Homo sapiens: one gene and its partners. The protein of the gene in region 2 purifies or fractionates together with the protein of the main gene of each other region. This does not show direct contact. Each region holds a gene or a part of one and is shown on either strand. Other genes may lie near its edges.

Evidence for each region. Proteins that work in one complex are often made in the same cells at the same time.
Region 1: the proteins of BRINP2 (region 2) and MANBA purify together in Homo sapiens (affinity purification with mass spectrometry; one large-scale study listed by BioGRID and IntAct). This does not show direct contact.
Region 3: the proteins of BRINP2 (region 2) and GALNT1 purify together in Homo sapiens (affinity purification with mass spectrometry; one large-scale study listed by BioGRID and IntAct). This does not show direct contact.
Region 4: the proteins of BRINP2 (region 2) and LMF1 purify together in Homo sapiens (affinity purification with mass spectrometry; one large-scale study listed by BioGRID and IntAct). This does not show direct contact.

Annotation. Positions count from the first base shown.
Region 1 is NC_000004.12:102,726,442-102,730,000, forward strand, and holds part of MANBA (beta-mannosidase precursor), read right to left. Parts: exon of another isoform or gene 929-3,559; coding exon of another isoform or gene 827-928; intron 243-826; coding exon 148-242; intron 1-147.
Region 2 is NC_000001.11:177,250,957-177,254,515, reverse strand, and holds part of BRINP2 (BMP/retinoic acid-inducible neural-specific protein 2 precursor), read right to left. Parts: intron 1-3,559. UniProt on the Homo sapiens protein: Inhibits neuronal cell proliferation by negative regulation of the cell cycle transition.
Region 3 is NC_000018.10:35,703,708-35,707,266, reverse strand, and holds part of GALNT1 (polypeptide N-acetylgalactosaminyltransferase 1), read right to left. Parts: intron 1-3,559. UniProt on the Homo sapiens protein: Catalyzes the initial reaction in O-linked oligosaccharide biosynthesis, the transfer of an N-acetyl-D-galactosamine residue to a serine or threonine residue on the protein receptor.
Region 4 is NC_000016.10:869,958-873,516, forward strand, and holds part of LMF1 (lipase maturation factor 1), read right to left. Parts: intron 1,385-3,559; coding exon 1,204-1,384; intron 926-1,203; coding exon 772-925; intron 110-771; coding exon 1-109. UniProt on the Homo sapiens protein: Involved in the maturation of specific proteins in the endoplasmic reticulum. Required for maturation and transport of active lipoprotein lipase (LPL) through the secretory pathway. Each LMF1 molecule chaperones 50 or more molecules of LPL.

The sequences.
Region 1 (3,559 bases), on a different chromosome or scaffold from region 2:
TAACTCTCAGATATGTAACCTAAACAAACAAAACAAAACAAAACATACAAAACAAAAAAAAAACAAACAAAACACAACATTTTTGCCCAGATAGAAAAAGAAGAAAAGTTCAAATAATAATAAAAATACACCCACAAACATACATACCTAATTTCAAAGGGGATTTTAAATTCTTTGCTATAGGTCCAGTTATCCAAAGAGACCCATCTGTAGTTAAGGTCATTAAATCTGTAGTAAGAATCCTGTTGATACAAGGTAAAAATTATGGTAGATGGTTAAATATGCACAAATAAATTAATAAAACAAACATAAAATAAATTATTAACAACAGCTATTTATCACCTAAAAATTAACGAACTTTTAGCCTAGTAGTACAAAGAGGGGACAGATCGTTAATACTGAAAAATGTGAAGGGAAAATTCCAACAAATTACCTGAAATGAAATAATCCTCTGAGATATAAATAATACAGCTTCATTATCAAAGAAAATTGGTGGGCATTAAGATTGGCTTCCCCTTGGAGACAGGGTTTCACCATGTTGGCCAAGCTGGTCTCAAACTCCTGACCTCAAGTGATCCACCTACCTCAGCCTCCCAAAGTGCTAGGATTACAGGCATGAGCCATCATGTCCGGCCTACAGTTTATCTTGTGTACTAACCTGTTTCACTCTCTAAATGAGCAAAGTGGGAGATCACTGTCACGGCTGAAGTTACATGGCCAAGACAAACTATGGTCTGGGAGTCCCAGGTTCTCCTGTGTGGGCACTTTCCTGGAAGATGCTAAATGATAGGAAAATCTGGGTTTCATGTTTCTGTGTGGTCCTCACCTCACTTGACTTCTGCTCTTTCTGTTTGCTCTGGGCTTCCGTGCTCTCATTGATATAGTTCTCAGTTTTCCATTGGTCTGTATCCCATTCTGCCTTGGACATCTTTACTTCTTGCTGCTCACTGATGAATCAGGAGGCCTGTCCTGGAGATGAGCTTGGTATAGGCCAATTGCACATGGGTCTCAGAGCACTCCATCTTCAAGGTCCAGATAACATGAGAAATGAGTCTTCTCACATCATTATTGGGGATGAGGGGCCGTAGCTGCTGGTTTAGCTGAATTTCAAACTGATCACCTGGGGACGAGAGCAATGGGTAATTGAAGCTTTTGGGCTCGGGAGACAGGCCAGTGCCCATGTTGTTGTATTCCCATTGTGTTTCACAGTCTTCTCTAAGTTGAACGCAGTCTCAGCAGAATCTCCCTCAGGAGGATGGTTGTAGGTTGTGTTTTCAGAGATGGTGCCTTCTGGCATAGTAGTGTTTTCCATAAAAATGTTTTGTTCAAAGGCATTTCTTGCAGTGGTGCTTTTAAAACATTCTGATGGAGAAATACTTCCGGAAAAGGATTTTCCTGAAGACTCAGGTCTCCTAAAGATGAAAAAGCCCCTTGTGAAGGGGCATTTATGAGGCTTTTCACTGCAGAGAATGGAGGCCTCTTTGCAAGCAAAGTCTACTGAGAGAACTTTTCTGGAATGTACGATTGGTTTTAACTCAACTTTGCATTTTCTAAAACCAAAATGGGTAAGTCTTTCAATCTGTTTCTGACCACAGGTAGGGCTTTTGCAGGGGTGGAGATAGAAGGCACGCCCATGGAGAAGGGTTTCAGCAAAGAGAAGACTGCTGCCTTATGCTCTTGGTTGAACGAAGGCTTGGTATAGATGGCGTTTCCTGCTAACTTCTCATGCCCCTGCTCTATGTGAGGCTGTTCCAGCTCCCTTGGGGCTGGACTCCTGAGCCTTTTTTCTTTGGCAGCATTCTCCACAAATGCCCAGGCACCCTGTTCCTTCCTGTTGCTCTGCTTTCCCACCTCTTTGAAGTGACTTTTCTGGATGCTCCTTGGGCCCATGAGGATTCTGTTCACTCTCTGCAGGCTTTTGCCTACACTTTGAATCTTAGCCAGGCTGTTTTCCTGTGGTTGGACAGTTTCTAATTTCATGAGTTTTTGGATGCAGATTGAAGAGAGGGACTCTTTGTATGGTTTTTCGGAATACCCATCTTTCACATTTGAAAAAAACAGGTAACTATAAGGTTAGCTGTTGGCAGAGCTAGCAGAGGTTTTATTTTGGACCAAAAAAAAAAAGCAATTGAATTGTTTTGTAGCTGAAGGCATAGGCATGGGGGGTCCCCAGGTAGTAAACTACCCTGTGGGTGGGTTGAGGGCTAGGGCTGGGCCTCAGGTGGGTCTCACGTTCCCTGTGCTCCCTTCTGCTCTCTGGGAGAGTCGCAGGAGGGGCAGGCTGGGAGGGGCTGCCGCAGCTGTTCACTTGGGCAGGACGTCAGAGGACTAGGACACCAGCCTCCCATCATGGGTCTCGATCTTCTTCACAACCACTGCCCTGGTGGTGCTGGTGCGGCTGAAGGAGCTGGAGCCCACACCAGAGCCAAAGCTGGGGCTTGGGAGGCCCCCACAGGCCGAGCTCAGATCACCTGCATAACCACTGGTGGTCTTTGTATGGATACTCATGTTCTGCATCCCAGAGTCCAGCTGGCTCTCCTCGCCCTCCAGCAGCTTCCTGTAGGTGGCTATCTCGATGTCCAGGGCCAGCTTGATGTTCATCAGTTCCTGGTACTCAAGCAGTTGCCATGCCATGTCCTGCTTGGCCTGCTGCAGGGCGGCCTCCAGCTTGGACAGCTTGGCGTTGGCATCCTTAACAGCCAGCCCCCTGTGCTGCAGACATCTGTGATGGTGCCCTCCAGGGAAGCCCTCTGGCCTTTGAGGCCCTCAGTCTCAGCCTGGAGCTGGCTGATGTTCCGGTTCATCTCAGAAATCTCAGTCTTTGTACACTGCAGGTCATCCTCGTGCTTCCCAGCCAGCATCTGCAGCTCCTCATCCTTGATCTGGTACATGCTCTCAGCCTTGGCCTGGCTGCAGTTGGCGATCTCCTCGTATGGTGCCTTGACCTCAGCGATGATGCTGTTCATGCCCAGGGAGCGGCTGTTGTCCATGGGCAGCACCACAGATGTGTCCGAGATCTGGGACTGCAGCTCCTGGATCTCCTCTTCATACAGCTGCTTGAGGAAATTGATCTCGTCAGTCAGCCCTTCCAGGTGAGACTCCAGCTCTACCTTGTTCATGTAACCTTCATCCACATCCTCTTGATGAGGACAAATTCATTCTCCACCTCTGTACACTTATTGATCTCATCCTCATACTTGTTCTTGAAGTCCTCCACCAGCCCGGGCATGTTGCCAAGCTCCGCCTCCAGCTTCAGCTTCTCCTGGCCCAGAGTCTTCAGCTGCTGCCTAAGGTTGTTGATGTAGCTCTGGAACATGTTGTCCATGTTGCTCTGAGCCATCTTCTGCTGCTGCAGGAGGCTCCACTTAGTCTCCAGCATCTTGTTCTACTGCTCCAGGAACCATACCTTGTCTATGAAGGAGGCAAACTTGTTGTTGAGGGTCTTGATCTGCTGCTTCTCCTGGGTGCGCACAGCCTGGATGTTGGGGTCCACCTCCAGGTTAAGGGGGCTCAGCAGGCTCTGGTTGACTGTGATGGTGGTGATGCCACCCACGCTGCT
Region 2 (3,559 bases):
CTTCCCATTTCATCTTACAGAATATTAAAAACACATGTACCCAAGGGTCAGGATTTAATAAAAGTAATAAATGTTACTGCTTTAAGGACATTCTTAAGTGAAGATAGTGTGTGTGTGTGTGTGTGTGTGTGTGTGTGCATGTGTGCTTATGTGTTTAGGTGCAAGTGTGTAATGATGAAGAATACATGACTCTTAGTGTTATGTGGTATGACTGCTTTTATTCAAATTAAAGTACCAGCAGTTTTATTTTGTACCTTCAGTGCAAATGTCAACATGAACACTCTGAAATAGACTAAGCGGATCCATATTTTGAGAAGCCTTATTCTAGAAGATTGCAAAGTTGTTCCTTTCTAATCCTGTTGAAGATTTTAATTTTCATGCTTTGCTCCTCACTGGAATGTTTGCATTTTAAAGGGGACAGGTTTATAAATCTTTGTCTTGGGATGAAATTTAAAGAATCATATCCATTAATAAAAAATGAGTTTTCCATTGTCCCCCAAATTATACTGGTAAGAACCAGCTCCACTGCCTTAGGAAGCAACAAAATGTAAAGTGTTTACACCCTCTTCACCCATCCCAAATCTGCTCATCATAACAGTGCCAAATCTTGGTCTAACCTTCCCCAAATGTCCATGAAATGCAAATGATAGAGTTGCATAAAAATAAAATAATTAAAAATAAATAAACGGATTTTTGACAAAGGTGCCAGGAACACACATTGGGGAAAGGAGAATATCTTTAATAAATGGTGCTGAAAAAACATAATACCCACATGCAGAAGAATAAAACTATCTTTCACCATGTACAAAAATCAGCTCAAAATGAATGAAAGACTTAAACATAAGACTCAAAACTATAAAACTAATAGAATAAAGTTTAGGGGAAAAGCTTTATGACATTGATGTGGGCAAGTTTTTTTGGATAAGAACTCAAAAGCACAGGCAACAAAAGCAAAAATAAACAAATGGGATTACATCAAACTGAAAAGCTCCTGCATAGCAAAGGAAACAACAGAGCGAGGAGACAACCTACAGAACTGAAGAAAATATTTGCAAATTATGAGTCCAATAAGGGGTTAATATCCAGAATATGTAAAGAACTCAAATAACTTAATAGCAAAAGAACATTTTTTTTAATGGTCAGAAGACTTGAATAGACATTTTTCAAAAGAATACATAAAAATGGCCAGCAGGTATATGATAAAATGCTCAACATCGCTAATCATCAGGGAAATACAAATCAAATGCACAGTGAAATGTCACCTCACCCTAGTTAGAATGGCTGTTATCAAAAAGACAGAAAATAACAAATGCTGGTCAGGATGCAGAGAAAGGGGAACTCTAATACACTGTTGGTGGGAGTGTAAATTAGTGCAGTCATTATGAAAACAGCATGAAAATTCCTCAGAAAACTAAAAATAGAACTAACATATGATCTAGCAATCTCACTACTAGGTACATATTCAAAGGAACTGAAATTAGTATATCAAAGAGATATCTGCACCCTCATGTTTATTGCAGCACCATTCAAAACAACCAAAATATGGAATCCACCTAAATGTCCATAAACTGATGATATACACAATGAAATACTACTCAGCTGTGAAAAGAATGAAATCCTATCATCTGCAGCAACATGGATGAACCTGGAGGACGTAATGTTAAGTGAAATAAGCCAGGCATAGAAAGACAAATACCACATAACCTCACTCATATGTAGGTCTAAAAAAGTTGATCTCATGGAATTAGAGACTAGAACAGTGGTTACCAGAGGCTAGGAAGGGTAGTGGGAAAGGGAGATGGGGAGAGCTTGGTTGACAGATACAAAGTTATAGTTAGGAAGAATAAGTTATGTGCTCTATTACATAGTAGGGTAACTGTGGCTAATAATAATGTACTGTAGATTTTAAGTAACTAGAAAAAAGCATCTTGAAAGTTATCACCACAAAGAAATGATAGATGTTTGAGGTGATGTATATGCTAACTACCCTGATTTGATCATTATTCGGTGTATGCATGTATTGAAACATCACACCAATACACTGTTGTGCCGGATATGTCAATTATAAACAAAATTTTTAAAATTAAAATTATAAATACATGAATAAATAAAAATCCATGCCACATTTGAGGCATAAATCCCACCATCTAACTGTAGAGACTGAGAGAGGAGCATGTGTCAAATGTTACTAGGGAAACAAAGAAAAGCGGGTGACTAATAATTCATGGTTCCAACAAAGTCTTCAAAATTCCCGCTGTGTAGCTTTATTTATCTAAGCAGGTAAGTTCATAATAATATATTGTCAGTTATTTCCTTTGTGCAGCAAATGCTAAGCTTTAATTAAAGTACAGAGTATTTGTCAAAAGTATTTTCTATCCCAAACCCCACTGCAGGGTAAAGAACAGTTGCCTAATCTCATCTCTAATTGGCTGGATGGAAACTAGAATCCTCTCACTGGTTAGTTGATAATTACATTGATGAATCATAAAATCAGATTACTAAAAGCAAATAAACAAACAAAAAACCTTAGGGTCATCAAACCCAGCCCCCTTGCTTTGGGATAGGGCATGTCTAGACTTCATTAACTAATAATTTCTAATCTATTATTTTTCTACATTGCTAGGGGAAAAAGACATTATTACAATTTCCATAGTTTCTTATAATGGTCGAAGCCCCTCACGGAAAGGAAAGGCCAACTTAGCATAGAGGTGGGCCCCACTTTAATTAAATATAATAAATAAAAATTGGTAGTCTGTTGTCTGGCCCAGTCAGACACTGGGTCTGGATGGGAACTAGTATCCTCTAGTTTCCTTATGTTTCTCATAAAACAGAAAGGGTAAGTGGTTTACCTAAAGCAATAAAGCCAGTTGATAATAGAACCAGAACAAAAAGCTAGTGTCCTGGCCCTCCTTCTATGCTATTAACAGCAACTATGATGGTGGTGACAATAGTCACAACTTGGACCCAGAGAGATTAAGAAAGTAGTGTGGATGAAGTCACACAGTTAGTAAATGACAGAGTTGTGCTTAAAACCCAGGCCAATATCATACTGCTGTTTCTATAGCACTGTTTTCCTTCGAGTAGATAAGGTTAAATGTTAAGTGTATTTCATTGCATTCTAATTTTTTTGTGGTGTTTAGTATCCTTTAACACAAATATTTTTATTACCCAGAACATTCCACTTTTTACATTTTCTACACAAAACATGGATTAATTGTATATTCAAAACATAGCATAACATTTACACCGCAGCAAAATGTTCCTGGATTAAGCCAGTTTTAACCTGCCCATTTGCAGGAGAAGAAATTGAGATGCCTCAAAAAGCCAAGTCCATACAGAGAGTACATGGGAGGAATCACAGATAAAGGCCTAAGTCCAGCTCCTGTGGCTGCTAAATAAATCATAATACAGAATAGTGAATGACCTAGAAAAAGGAATGATACTGTCTAAGGAAGCTTTTTATGAGCAAATAATAAAAAATAATGGCTAACATTTAATGAATTTTTAGTATGTGATAGGCATTCCAAGCATCTTACAAGGATTAGTTAATATTATATTC
Region 3 (3,559 bases), on a different chromosome or scaffold from region 2:
CTAGAAAAAATAATTTGCCAAGCTCCTACTCCTAATTTCTAGATGTAACTAGGTCTAAAATCTGCATTTTATTCCAGAAAGGACAGATACAAGTAGTCAAAGCAAAAGAGCCCAGTGCCTTATTGTAAATTTTATGTAATATGTAATACAAGCAAGACTCAAAACTATTAATCAAAAATAGCGTGGTACTGTGCAAAGAAACCTGGATCGAGAATCTAGAATTCCAGATTTGAGATCTAGTCATACTATCTGGCTGCTCAGAGACCTTGGGCAATTAATTTCCTTGGGAAATTAATTCTGAGTTTCAATTTCTACTTGTATAAAAAGTATCCTGGGTTTAATTTCTAGGGTTGCTTTGAAATCTAAGAATTCATGATTTTAGATTACAGATAATGGACATAAGTATTCTGTTATTTTTCTAGACTGTTAAGTTTTCAATGGATGGAGGCAGGACGATTCTGATGGGCTGTTCCCCTCCAGTGCTTTCCCTGTAGTCTGCTCAGGCTGTTGGACCTGCATTGCAACTCAACTTCTCCCTCTGCCCAGGGAGAGGGAGGTATTCCTTTTACAGATATTGGCCCAGAAAGTGCTCCCTAACAAACATCCTGAATGCTCAACTTTATCTTCGAGTCTGCTTCTGGGAGAAATCAATCCCCAGCATTAATGTTTTATCTCAGCAGGAAAAAACCTTGCAAAGCGATCTAGAAGTTTTAAAACTTCACACTCATAACTGGCTCTTTTTTTTAAAATTTAATTTTATTTTTTGAGATGGAGTCTCACTCTGTCGCCCAGGCTGGAGTGCAGTGGCGCGGTATCGGCTCACTGCAAACTCCGCCTCCTGGGTTCACGCCATTCTCCTGCCTCAGCCTCCTGAGTATCTGGGACTACAGGTGCCTGCCACCATGCCTGTATGGTGTATTTTTTGTATTTTTAGTAGAGACGAGGTTTCACTGTGGTCTCGATCTCCTGACCTCGTCATCCGCCCACCTCGGCCTCCCAAAGTGCTGGGATTACAGGCTTGAGCCACCGCGCCCGGCCGGCTCTTTCTAAATACTCTTATCTCCAGCTTCTTACCTGTTTCATCAAACATTTACTTTTGGAATACTGTTGTGGTAGACTGTGTAGGTTGGCTAGCCAACAGTCTTTCCCAATCCCTCTATCTCTTGGCCATCTCACACTCTAACGACTAGAAAACCAAAGACTTGCTTTCCCAGCTTCCTTTGCAGCTGGGGGTCACCATGGGATGTTCTGGTCCATAAGACATAAGCAGAGCCTGCTAAGGGGGTTCCAGAAAAACCTTTTACTTTGCTAATAAAGAGCAACACATGTGGTAGTGTACCATTCCTCTTTCCCTTTTCTTTCTGCCTGGAGTTGGGATGCGATAAAGCTGCAGCAACCACCTTGTGGCCACAAGGAAAAGCTAAGAATATTACAACAACGTTATCCCTGACATCACTATGCCACTGAATTTACTTACCTCTAGACTTATGTAAGAAAAATAAATCCCTATTTGTTTTAGCTATAATAAATAGGTTTCTAAAAATACTGCCTAATTAATATACTGTCATTTTCCAATAAACTTAAGAGGTTTTTCATTTTTAAAATTTTGTGGTTGTCACAATGGCTATGGGGTGCCACTAGCACTTACTATCTGGAGCCAGAGATGCTACATACCCTGCAATGCATGGGGCAGTCACACCCAAAATGGCAGTGGCACATACCATGGGAAACCCTAGAACAGAGCATTCAGGCCATTTCCAATGGCCATATTAACTGAGCTATTATTATAGGTAATATCATTTTTTCTATAGCCTGACATTGTGAAAGGAGACCCAGGATTTATAAAAGATGATCTCTGTCCTCTAGGATCTAACAATCTAATAGTGGAGAAAAGATTGCTAGATAAATAACTACAAACAAGTACAGCTTTATAGAGGTCAGAGATGACTGTAATTAAGATTGACAGAGTTAATTTCAGGTTAGGATTCATGGAAGTGATGTCAAAGCTGGGTTCTTAAGAATGGGTAAGGTGTGTCAGGCAGAGGGAAGCATATTATCTTAGATGTGAACTAGGAAAGTATAAGGTATGTTCAGAGAACAGCATATTGATGATTAAAGTAGACCATGGTTGGTGTATGACACAGTAAAGGGAGGAAAGATGGCCAAAGTCAGTAACTTGGGACAACATTTCCATTTAAGGAGTAGGACGAAGAAGGAGAGAGAGCCAGGCCAACAAAAGGAACAGAGAGCAAACTAAGAGAAGAACCTAAACAGTAGTGCATCTTATGGCCAAGGCATAAGAGGATATGAAAATATCAGGCCAGGCTGGGTGCAGTGGCTCATGCCTGTAATCCCAGCACTTTGGGAGGCCGAGGTGGGCAGATCACCTGAGGTCAGGAGTTCAAGACCAGCCTGGCCAACATGGAGAAACCCTGTCTCTACTAAAAGTACAAAAATTAGCCGGGCATGGTGGCGGGCACCTGTAATCCCAGCTACTCAGGAGGCTGAGGCAGGAGAATAGCTTGAACCAGGGAGGTGGAGGTTGCATGAGCCGAGATTGCACCACTGCACTCCAGCCTGGGCGATAAGAGCGAGACTCCATCTCAAAAAAATAAATAAATAAAATAAAAAATAAAAAAAAATAAATTAGAAAATATCAGGCCAGATATGATGGCTCATGCCTGTAATCCCAGCACTTTGAGAGACTGAGGCGGGTGGATCGCTTGAGCCTAAGTGCTCAAGACCAGCCTGGACAACATGGTGAAACTCTGTCTCCACAAAATTACAAAAATTAGCCAGGCATGATGGCGTGTGCCTGTGGTCCCAGCTCCTCTAGAGGCTGAGGTGGGAGGATAGCTTGAGCCTGGGAGGTGGAGGTTGTGTGAGCTGTGACTGTACCACTGCACTCTAGCCTGGGTGACAGAGCAAGACCCTGCCTCAAAAAAAAAAAAAAAAGTCATCTGTTTAGTGGCACTAAATGCCTTACAGAAGTTAAGCCAAATTAAAAAGAACCAGAGAAAGAAATATTGAAGATGTTGGTGCTGGTTCCAGAACCTGGCAAAAGCACAAGTTGAAAAATTAGGCAAATAGGTGGAAAGAGGTTTACCACGGATGCTTTAATTGAACTAATACCTTTTAAGTACTTCCATGTGAGCCCATTTGATGGTGGTGGAGAGAAAGGTTCCAGACAAAAGGAAAGATAAATAGGAAAGGTTCTGTCATATATGTCACTGGGAAATCATCACAAGCCAGAGAACTTTATTAATTAAAACTTATCTTTCACTGAAGTGTTTAATTAAGTAATTTTAAAAGCCTACTTTCTGCCTCATTTCTCCCAAACTAGACTATAGAACTTGAAGACATACAGAAGGAACAGTGGCTACTCAGTAAACAAGGACCCAGGGATTGGAGGCAACTGTGATTTTATAAGACTAAAATTTAATTATTAGGGAGATTAAAACACATTTATTTTACTTATTTTTCCCGCCTGTCAATATTTAGTGTATAAGACAAGTTTGATCCATATTCAAGGTCCACAAGAACTCATTCCTTTAGATAT
Region 4 (3,559 bases), on a different chromosome or scaffold from region 2:
GTCACCTGGCTTGCACTTGAACTCGTAGTCCTCCCACATGGCATCGGGGGCGCTGGCGTTGGAGCTGGCTGTGCCCTGCAGGATCACCTCCGCCCGCTCCTTGGTGATGCTGCCGGGAGACCGAGGCAGGCCAGGCCCACGTCACACACCGGCTGGGCCGAGTGGGGTGCATGGGTGGGGGGGGTTCCCCGACTGTCCATCCTGGCCCAGGGGGAGGGCTACAGCCTCCACCTGCCTCCTGGTCAGGGGCTACTGAGAGGCTGGGTGGGGCTGAGGAGAACTTTTGGGAACTGTGGCCCCAGGGTCTCATTCGAGAACACCTTCTCTGCCCGTGAAGACCCAGCTGCAGCCGCCATGTGCCCCATGCCCCTCGGCAGCTCAGGGTGGACATGAGGGGGACAGAGGCCAAGGGGCTGGCCCCAGGACAGGGAGGGTGCCTGTGTTCAGGTGGCACTACCTGGCATTCCCACGCAGGGGGTTGGGGCCTGGTGGCCTCTCCCTTACGCCCCCAGTAGGCATTCCAGGGCCGCAGCCCACCTGCCTGGTGACCTCGGGCCCTGCCCCTTTGCCTCATGGGACCAGGACGAGGAGGCCTGCGTGTCCAGGCCCGGTAGTGGGGACAGCACGGCCTGTGCCTGGGTCAGGCTGGGGTGGGGCAGGGGACACTTGGGGTCATGGGGGCCTGCACTGTAACCCCACCTGAATGTGGCTGGTCAGGGCTGAGTCTCCCCATATACCCAGCTCCGGGGGACGGGGACCCCAGGCTCATACCTTCCGAAGGCCCCGTAAGTGTTGACGATGTGAAGAGAGTTGAAGTGGGTGTTCATGACCTGCCTGGAGCTCAGCAAGTTGAGGACCACGGGCACGCTGAGCCAGGCCAGCAGGACGCCCAGCGAGACGTTGGCTGCACGCCGCACCACGGAGCCTGGCAGGGGAGTGACATCTTCCAGGTGGGGCTCCCAGCTGCCCCGTGGCCTGTCCCTGGGGAGACCCCAGCTGCTGCTCCCTAAGGGTCAGCTGTCCTGGGTCCCGGGGACGGAGCAGCACCCGAACTCACACACCTTGTTCCTGGCACGCTACACTGCGGACGGCGCTGACTCTCCTCCTACCCTGGCGTCCCCAACCCACACGGGCAGGCTGTGGGGCTGGCACCACCCGACTTTCTCCTGCCCTTGGGCAGGGGCCCCCAGCTGAGCCACCTACCGAATCTGGGCTCGGGCCGGGCCCCTCGGATGTCCCTCTGCATCTGCAGAACTCGGTCCTTCAGGCTGCCTGGCCCAGAGGGGAACAAGAATCCCAGGGTGGCGTCATCAAAGCAGGCCAGGCTGGGCACCATAGTCAGCCAGTTCAGGAAGCTGAGGTTCCCGCTGACGATGAGGACGGCCTGTGGAGACGCCGCAGCTGAGTCTCGTGCAGGGGCTCGTGTGGGGCCCCTGGGCAGCTGGCGCCTCTCTTCCTGGAGCAGGGAGGGGGGAGGGAACCTGCACCCAGCTCTGCCCTTGCTGTCCCTCGGGCCCAGCATCACAACTGAAACCCAGCTGTGCCTTCATGGAGGGGACAGCAGATGCCTCAGAGGTGCCTTCCGGCAGGTGCTTCCAGAACATTCCTCCCATGACTGCACATTTCTGTGCAGGTTCTGTCCCTTGCTTTAGTGATCCGCAAGGCGGGGGCTGGACCAGACCACCAGACCCTGTGCCCTCCTGGAACTCCTCACTTTCAGAGGGCACCTGCCGGGGTCATGCCCGGGGAAGGCTGGTGAGTCCAAACAGAGGAGGCTGTGCTTGGAGAGTGGGTACTGGGGACGCCCCTCAGCCGATGGGTGACACAGACAACAGGGGCCGTGGGGGGGCCACCAGTAACGCCCCCACTCCAAAATACGAAATGCAAGGAAGTGAGACACAGGCACAGGACCCTGTGCCACAGAGATGAACAGCAGGAGAGGGGAGGGGCTGCATGCAGGGCTGGCTGAGCAGCACGGCTGGGAGAGCTCCAAGGAAAGACTCAGCAGCAGCAGTGAGTAAACCTGCGGCAGGAGGGACTCAGAGGGACCCGCTTCTGGACATCCCCGCAGGCCAGCGATCGTTAGGTGACGAAACTGGAGATGGAGCCGCTGTCCCTGCAGCTCCGTCGGGTGATATCACAGGTGTGCTGCCAGACCTCACCCCTGCCGTTGCCGTGGAGGCATCAGGGAGACAGGGGCAGCTTGCGTGGCCGGTCGCCCTGCATGGGTGATGGTCTGCAGCTGAGCCGGTGGACCCTGGGCCGGCAGGACCTGGGTGTGGCTTCCTCAGACAGCTCCGTCAGCCAGATTTGATGCATCAAAGCCCAGCCTTTATCCCCGTAACTCAGGAGGAAGGTTGAGGGCAGGGACATCGACGTCTAATGAAGGGACTCGTGAGGGCAGCCACATCAGTGTTATGGGCGATGATGGTGTTTTATGAACTGTGCACTCATGGCTCTCCCTGGGTGAATTGGGAAAAATAGCTTTTCTGGTTCTGAGCCCCAAAACAGTTATTTCTTATTCTCCACTGTCTACAAGGTTACTAAACCCCTGTGCCAAAAACAGCCCCGCCTCGCCCTGGCTGGGGTTAGCCACCTCTGCCACCAGCTCCCCTCCGCTGGTCCAGACCCCCATGCCCTCCGTCCTGAGTGTGACCAGGGCTGGTCTGGGGTGGGGTGGCTGGGAGCCCCTGAGCTCCCGTGACAGGGAGGGTGCAGGGCTAGGCACTGAGGTCTGACCTTTGGGCCCACTCTTGGGGATGCTCTGGAGGAGATGCCACAGGTGACACTGGAATGTCCTGGTGGGAAAAGCTCGGGTCTTTCTGGCCCTTCGCTGTGGTCAGCCTGACTGGCAGATGGGACCAAAGCGACCTGGGGCACAGCCTGAGCCAGTGCCCGTTCGGATGCTCGGCCATGCCAGAACCATCAGGAGCTTTGAGGAACACCCAGCCCTGAGCACCTGCCTGCCTGGGTCAGGGTGGGCCCTGCCTGAGTGTATTTCCAAAGCCCCCTTGGGTCATCCTGCTGTGGGCTCAGTGGGGAACTCTAGCCTCAGGGAACTAGGGCTCCAGAGAGCACAGATCTGGGCATCAGATCCTGTTTCTAAGAAAGCTTCGGGGCTCGGGGCCCTGCTCCATGCAGAGGCATCCCCAGCTGCGCCCCGTTCAGCTGCTCTGGTGCATCTCTCGCCCTCCATCTGGTCGGCTGTTTTGTTATGAAAACGCAGTTCCGCGTAGAGTGCACGGCCTGAGCGCTCCTGGGGGACCTCGCCTTCCTTGTTTTTCTTCTAGCATCACTGAGCCATCTCCTCAGAGGGAAATCAGTCTTCTCACTGCCCATCTGTGCTCGCCCCCGCCGGCGGAGTCCTCACAAGGCTGTGCGGCCCACAGATGACCCGGCCGGTGGCTGGGAGCGGAGGCGAGGCCCGAGGGGGTCCCCAAGGCCGGCACAGGAAGAGGAGCTTGAGGTGATGGAATCCTGGGCCCAAGAGACGGAGCAGCAGGTGTTCCGAGGCCAACGGCGCATGGCCCCAAGAAGGAAGAGTGGCATCTTTGGATGC